Linked DNA regions of Homo sapiens: region 1 is linked to region 2. The links come from fine-mapping of genetic effects on gene expression. A gene starts in region 2. The other region holds a variant in brackets. All regions are shown on one strand. Distances are from middle to middle.

Evidence for each region.
Region 1: its variant is fine-mapped to the expression of DKC1 in whole blood (TOPMed, PIP 0.91).

Annotation. Positions count from the first base shown.
Region 1 is chrX:154,782,659-154,785,568 of GRCh38, forward strand. MPP1 (MAGUK p55 scaffold protein 1) reads right to left here. Exons shown (of 12, transcript NM_002436.4): 7 at 2,393-2,499; 8 at 1,370-1,450; 9 at 769-849. Among named protein-coding and RNA genes, the nearest start is that of SNORA56, 9.1 kb to the left of the region's middle. The variant C/T (reference allele first, on the strand shown) is at 1,576.
Region 2 is chrX:154,761,586-154,764,495 of GRCh38, forward strand. DKC1 (dyskerin pseudouridine synthase 1) reads left to right here and starts at 1,279. Exons shown (of 15, transcript NM_001363.5): 1 at 1,279-1,396. The coding sequence starts at 1,381. RefSeq lists enhancers at 900-959, 1,710-1,809 and a silencer at 1,060-1,359.

The DNA.
Region 1 (2,910 bases), 21 kb after region 2:
TCACTTAATATTATTATCAGTAGGTTCTTAGAAAATGTGACTTTAAGTGAAATCACATGCAGCTGGTCGTTGACTAACATGGTTTAGTTCAACTTCATTTCATTGTATTGTTGATGAGTAAAAAAACTGGTTCTTGTTATATGTCATTTCACTTAAAGTCACAGTCTTCGAAGAGCCTATTGACAATATTAAGTGAGGAATCACCGTATTTCTTTCTGGGAACATACACAACTATACCATGCAGCATCACTTCTGGGAATGGAAGAGTTATCAAATTCTCCACCTGATCACTGGCGCTACTCTTCTCCATATCTAGGACTGCTGTTGAGATCGTTTGGGCCTTTCCTAGGCACTGCTTTGATTTAGAAGACATTCCATGAAAATGAGAGGCAGCCTGAACATCAAGAGTGGGATAGTTCTCAAAGAGAATTAGGCAAATTGCAGAGGAACATGAGAAAATGTTTAAAAAGTAAAATGACAAAGTTATATGTATAAACTTTAATACTTAGTAATTTTTAAGGCAGTATCAAAATGTTTACTATAGCTTCTGTTATGTAGACAAACAGCACGAATAACAATAAGAAAACAGTTATTCTGTTAGGTGGAGGAATTGTGGGCACAAATTTTTATCTTTCCATATTTTGTTTAGTTTTAATAATCATTTAAAATAAAATAATTTAAAAAATAATAAAATAACACTATGGTATTTCAGATGGCGAGTGGTACCAGCCTGTCACCTCCCCTCCAAGGTGCCTAAGAGCTACTTACATGGGACAGGGTACACAAACTTCTCCGGATTCTGGCTGAGCAGGGCATTCTTAATGTGGCTGCGACCCACCCCACTGGCTCCTGTGTAGAGAGAGAAGAACATCTTTTGGAAAGGGGGGAGAGGAGCGAGGATAAGATACGGATTTTCCTCTCTCGGCACTCAAAACTGCCAACAGGTGAACATGAGTTGGGGTTGCATCTGGGCTGGGGTCAACTCTAAAGACAGGAAGGTGAGCAGTCCGCCAGAGGCAAAGCCTACATACCTGGGTTTGAAGCAAGGACTTACTCTGTTTCAGGTCAGAGTCACTGCTTGGGGGAAGGGAGATTTACAAAGCGTATCACTGCCAGCAGACAGCATGAAACCTAACCAAAAATAATTCGTTGCTAAATAGTAGAGAAACTTGTAAGGTTTAGTTTCATTTGTGAGGTGGACCCAGGTGGGGTGCACGTGAGGATTCAGAAAATTCCTTACACCTGCTCTATATGGAGAACCCAAGAGACCTCAGTTCTTTTCTTCCTCACTGCCTTTTTTGGGGGTGGGCACGTGATGCAGGCAGGAAAACAAAGACAGAAATGTGCAAATGGGGCAATGAGAAGATACCGATCAGCACCAGGGTCTTCCTCTTGAATGCAGGGAGCCGAACGACTTCCTCGTAGGAAACAACATCCAACTGATCAAAAACTAGAGACAAAGAAAACCAAGCAGTGTTCATTTCCAGAGCTAGGGAGAACAGTGGTCCACACTCTGAAATGGGAAACAGCCTCGCGACATCTCAACAAGCAGGGAGGAAGTGACTAGAGATGAGA[C/T]GAGGGAGGTTGGTGTGGAGGAAGGACTTTGGACTGTATTTTTAGTGTGGTGAGGGAATTTTGAGCAAGGGAGTTTATCTAACTTTTGCACCCTCTCTTCCTCCTTGCCCTATCTCTCTGAGCCAACTTTTCTTGTCTCCTGTCCTCATCTCTTCTCCATAGTTTCAGTATCAGATGTTCCCTTGGCACTTAGAGCTGAAGAATGCCAATGCTATCTCGGTTCTGCCTGAATGTCCCTTATCTTAGAAGATGGTGGTGCTATTGACCCAGCTGCTCAAGATAGAGACCTGGTGTCATCCTGACTCTCCACCCCCTTACCTGCCTACAACCCAAGACTGCCACGATCATTCCCTGGCTGGTGGTGTGCACGTGACGTCTCAGAAAAGAGAAATGCAGATGGAAAGCTGACCGTGCGAATTCTCTGCTCAAAACCCTTCACCAGCTCCACAGTCTATAGTGCAAAATTTAAAACGCTAGGGAGGGTGCACGAAGCTCCCTATGACCTGGCCCTGGCCTCTCCCTCTGGCCTGTGTTCTTGCCTCACTTCCCCTCTCCCACCACATCTACTTCTGTGTGAGGGGTGGGGTGATGAGCAGGTGTGGGCTCACCACTAGTCCTCCTTTACATCCACTGGCCTGACTGCAGCAAGCTTGTGAAGATGGATTCAATAAAAAGAAACCAGAAGAAATGACATGCTTTCTGTAGAATGCGCCTTCTGCTGCGCACTGCACCACCTCCCCTTTTCTGCTGGTTACAGAGACTGGGAAACACGTGAATGCTGCCAGGAACCTGGGGCAAGAAGGCTCAGAAAGCTTACTCGAGCTGTGCTTGGCCAGATATTTGTCTTTGTACTTCTTCTTCTTCCCAAAGGGACTGCAGCTCGGGGCTTCGCTAGGAGCTGACTGAGCCATACTTGCCACTCGCCTGGTAGGAAAAGACAATCAAGGGGTCAGCTTTCCTCCCCCTCCCCTCATACCCCCCCCAGCCACTCAGTCTCTAATGGCACCCCCTTCACTCTCTGAGTGTCCATTACAGTGGGAGATAATGTGTGCAAAGCACCCCATACACTGTTTGGTGCATCTTGCACTGTGCCCTGCCCTCAGTCAGGGACCTGGCTCCTTGAGTCTGTGTCATCTAGTACCTGTCAGCACATTCTGGACACAACCCACAAACAACTCTCTTTCTTTGGTCTAGACCATAAAGGTCTCAAACCTTTATGACCCTACCTCACTCTAAGAAATACACTGTACATTGCAAGCCATTATTGCACATACATCTATAAACAAAACACATACACACACCCCACATATATATCTAAAACAACTGCTTCACAAA
Region 2 (2,910 bases):
TCTGGGAATTTATCCAGCTACCAATTGTGTTTATTACAAGTATGGATTCAAGAACCGGGGAAAGAGCCACAGGGTGGCTGATAGTGAAAGGGACGTGGGCTGACTCCACTTCTGACCATTGGACCAAGTGGCATTCTACTTCCCCAGTGATTCACACGGGCTAGTGCAAGCCCCTGGTAAATGGCCACGGGTCCCACGAGAAGGGAGGAGGCAGGCTGAAAGTACACACTTGTAGCGTTACATGTGCCTGGCCTCACCTTTACAGGCTCACCTCACGGGCTCTGGCCTGTGGACTGACTAGATCTGGGAATTAGATGAGGCACCATGATTTTCCATTGTGGTGATTCAAGGCAGAATGCCTTTAGCCAGACCTAGAGTTACCGGGGTTATACAGATCATGATGGCTTACTACAGGACACTGTGATCAATTAGACACCACCAAAGATCCCTGGGGAGAAATCAGTTTGGTTCCAGCTTCCAGCCCTGCTGCCTATCATGATACCCAGGCTCATCCTGTTTCTATGAGATTTAGTGCCAGTGCTTTGTCTCTGCTGTTTGGCGTGAAGCCCGGTCGTAGAGTTCAAATTGAGGTGTGCTGTGAGCATAAACGCACACACCGGAAAGTCTTTGCGGGGACAAAAAAAAAAAACCAATGTAAAATACCCCATTCATACTGTTGTGTTTTGCCTATATGTGGAAATGATAATATTTCGGATACGCTGGGTTAAAAAAATTCATTATAAATCATTTTCACCTTTTTCTTTTTACTCTTCTTTCATGTTGCTGCTGGAAAATTTAAAAGTCAACATGTGGCACGCACACTACTCCTATTGGCCATCTGCTCTAGCTGGATGGGAACTGCAAGCAGCAAAGGCCTTTCAACCTCTCCGAGCTTCAACATGTTCACTTATGCATCAGGACTGATCCAACAGCAACCTGAAAGGGTCGGTGTGAGAAAGCAAAGAAAGAGGTACTGTTTACGGAGCGTTCAGCCGTGAGCCCAGGCGCAGGCGCGGAGCTAAACCCGGAGGTGAAGCAACTACAGCTGGGGCCACGCCCACAGACTCCGGGCTGTCGGGGCGGGCGGCACTCGCGCTTCCAGCCTGGGCCAACCAGGCTGCTTGAGGCTCGAAGCGCATGCGCGGTCTCGCCCTCCGTACTGGCCGAGCCAGCAAATCGCATTGCGCAGACGACCAGCGGGCGCCTCGGATTCCGCCCCCGGGATGGCCCCGCCTCCTCCCGCCCCGCGGCAAGGCACGCACAGGGCAGTGCGCGGGTGGGTGGGTCCTAGCAGCGCGGCCTGACGGGACCAAGGCGGCGGGAGTCTGCGGTCGTTCCCTCGGCTGTGGACCGGGCGGCACGCACGCGGTGCAGGGTAACATGGCGGATGCGGAAGGTAAGGGCTGCAGGCTTCCGGGCCGTGCTAACTCCGGGCGACTCGGGGAACGGGGGTGGGGGGATGGTATCGGGGCCCGCGCACGCCTCCCTCTGGTTCCCGCCGGCGTGTCGGCCTCTTCACCGCCCGGCCTTAAGCCGGCCTTGTCTCTCGGCCCTGGCTCCGTGGCAAGGGCGCGAGAGTGGGAGCCCCTCGCGGTGACTTGGCATGATGGGGCTCGGCCCTCTCACCTCCCTGGGGTCCGGGTCGCCGTCGAAAGACATCTGCCGTGCTGCCCACCCCGCGGTGGCGTGGGACGTGGCAGTGTCTGTGCTGCTGCCAGCCCGGACGCCGCCGTTACAGCTCCATGCGACTAGGGGAGCAAGGGTAGTGGAAACGGGCCGAGAAGAAAAGGAGCGGAGGGACCCCGGAGCAGGGATAGAGCTCCGAGTTGCAAGAAAGTTCTAGAGGCCACAAGCCCGCGGGGACAGTCGAGTGGTCGCTTATGGAACTTTCCGGCCCCCTGCGTGAGCGCTTCTGTGGGATGTTTAAGCTCTGCCATAGCCACGTGGTGAACCGGAAGGGAAGCCGACACGTGCAGTAGCCTACAGTCAGTTACCCAGCCATGGGACCCATACATTTGGCCTTACACACCTTGTTTTCTCGCTTACCTACGGATATACGTTCTAAGAAATGGGTCGTTAGGCGATTTCATCATTGTGTGAACATCAGAGGGCTCTTACACAAACCTAGGTGGCATAGGCTACTACACACCTAGGCTGTATATGGTGTAGCGTATGGCTCCTAGGCTTCAAACCTGGACAGCATGGTATTGTGCGGAATGCTGTAGGCAGTTGGGACACAGCGTCGAGAGTTTGTGTACTTAAACATGTCTAAGCAGAAAAAGGACAGTAAAAATATAGCACAGGGCCGGGCGCGGTGGCTCAGGCCTGTGATCCCAGCCCAGGCTGGCGGATCACCTGCGGTCAGGAGTTCAAGACCAGCCTGGCCAACATGGTGAAACCCCGTCTCTACTAAAAATACAAAAAATTTAGGTGGGCGTGGTGGTATACGCCTGTAATCCCAGCTACTCGGGAGGCTGAGGCAGGAGAATTGCTTGAACCTGGAGAAGGAGGTTGCAGTGAGCCGAGTTTCTGCCACTGCACTCCAGCCTGGGGAAAGAGTGTGACCGTCTCAAAAAAAAAAAATTATATATATATATAAATATGTGTGTGTATATATGTATATTATATATGTATGTATTATATGTATGTATATTATATATATATAGTACACAAGGTTATAAGTGGTGCACCCGTAGAGGAGGGCACTTACCATGAATGGAGCTTGCTGAGCTGGAAGTTGCCCTGGTTGAGTCGGTGACTGAATGTGAAGGCCTCAGACATTACACTACTGGAGACTTTATAATCTGTACACCTAGGCTACACTAAATTTATAAAAATATATTTTTCTTCAGAATAAATCAACCTTAGCTTACTGTAACTTTATAAACTTTTTACTTCGACTGTTGTAAT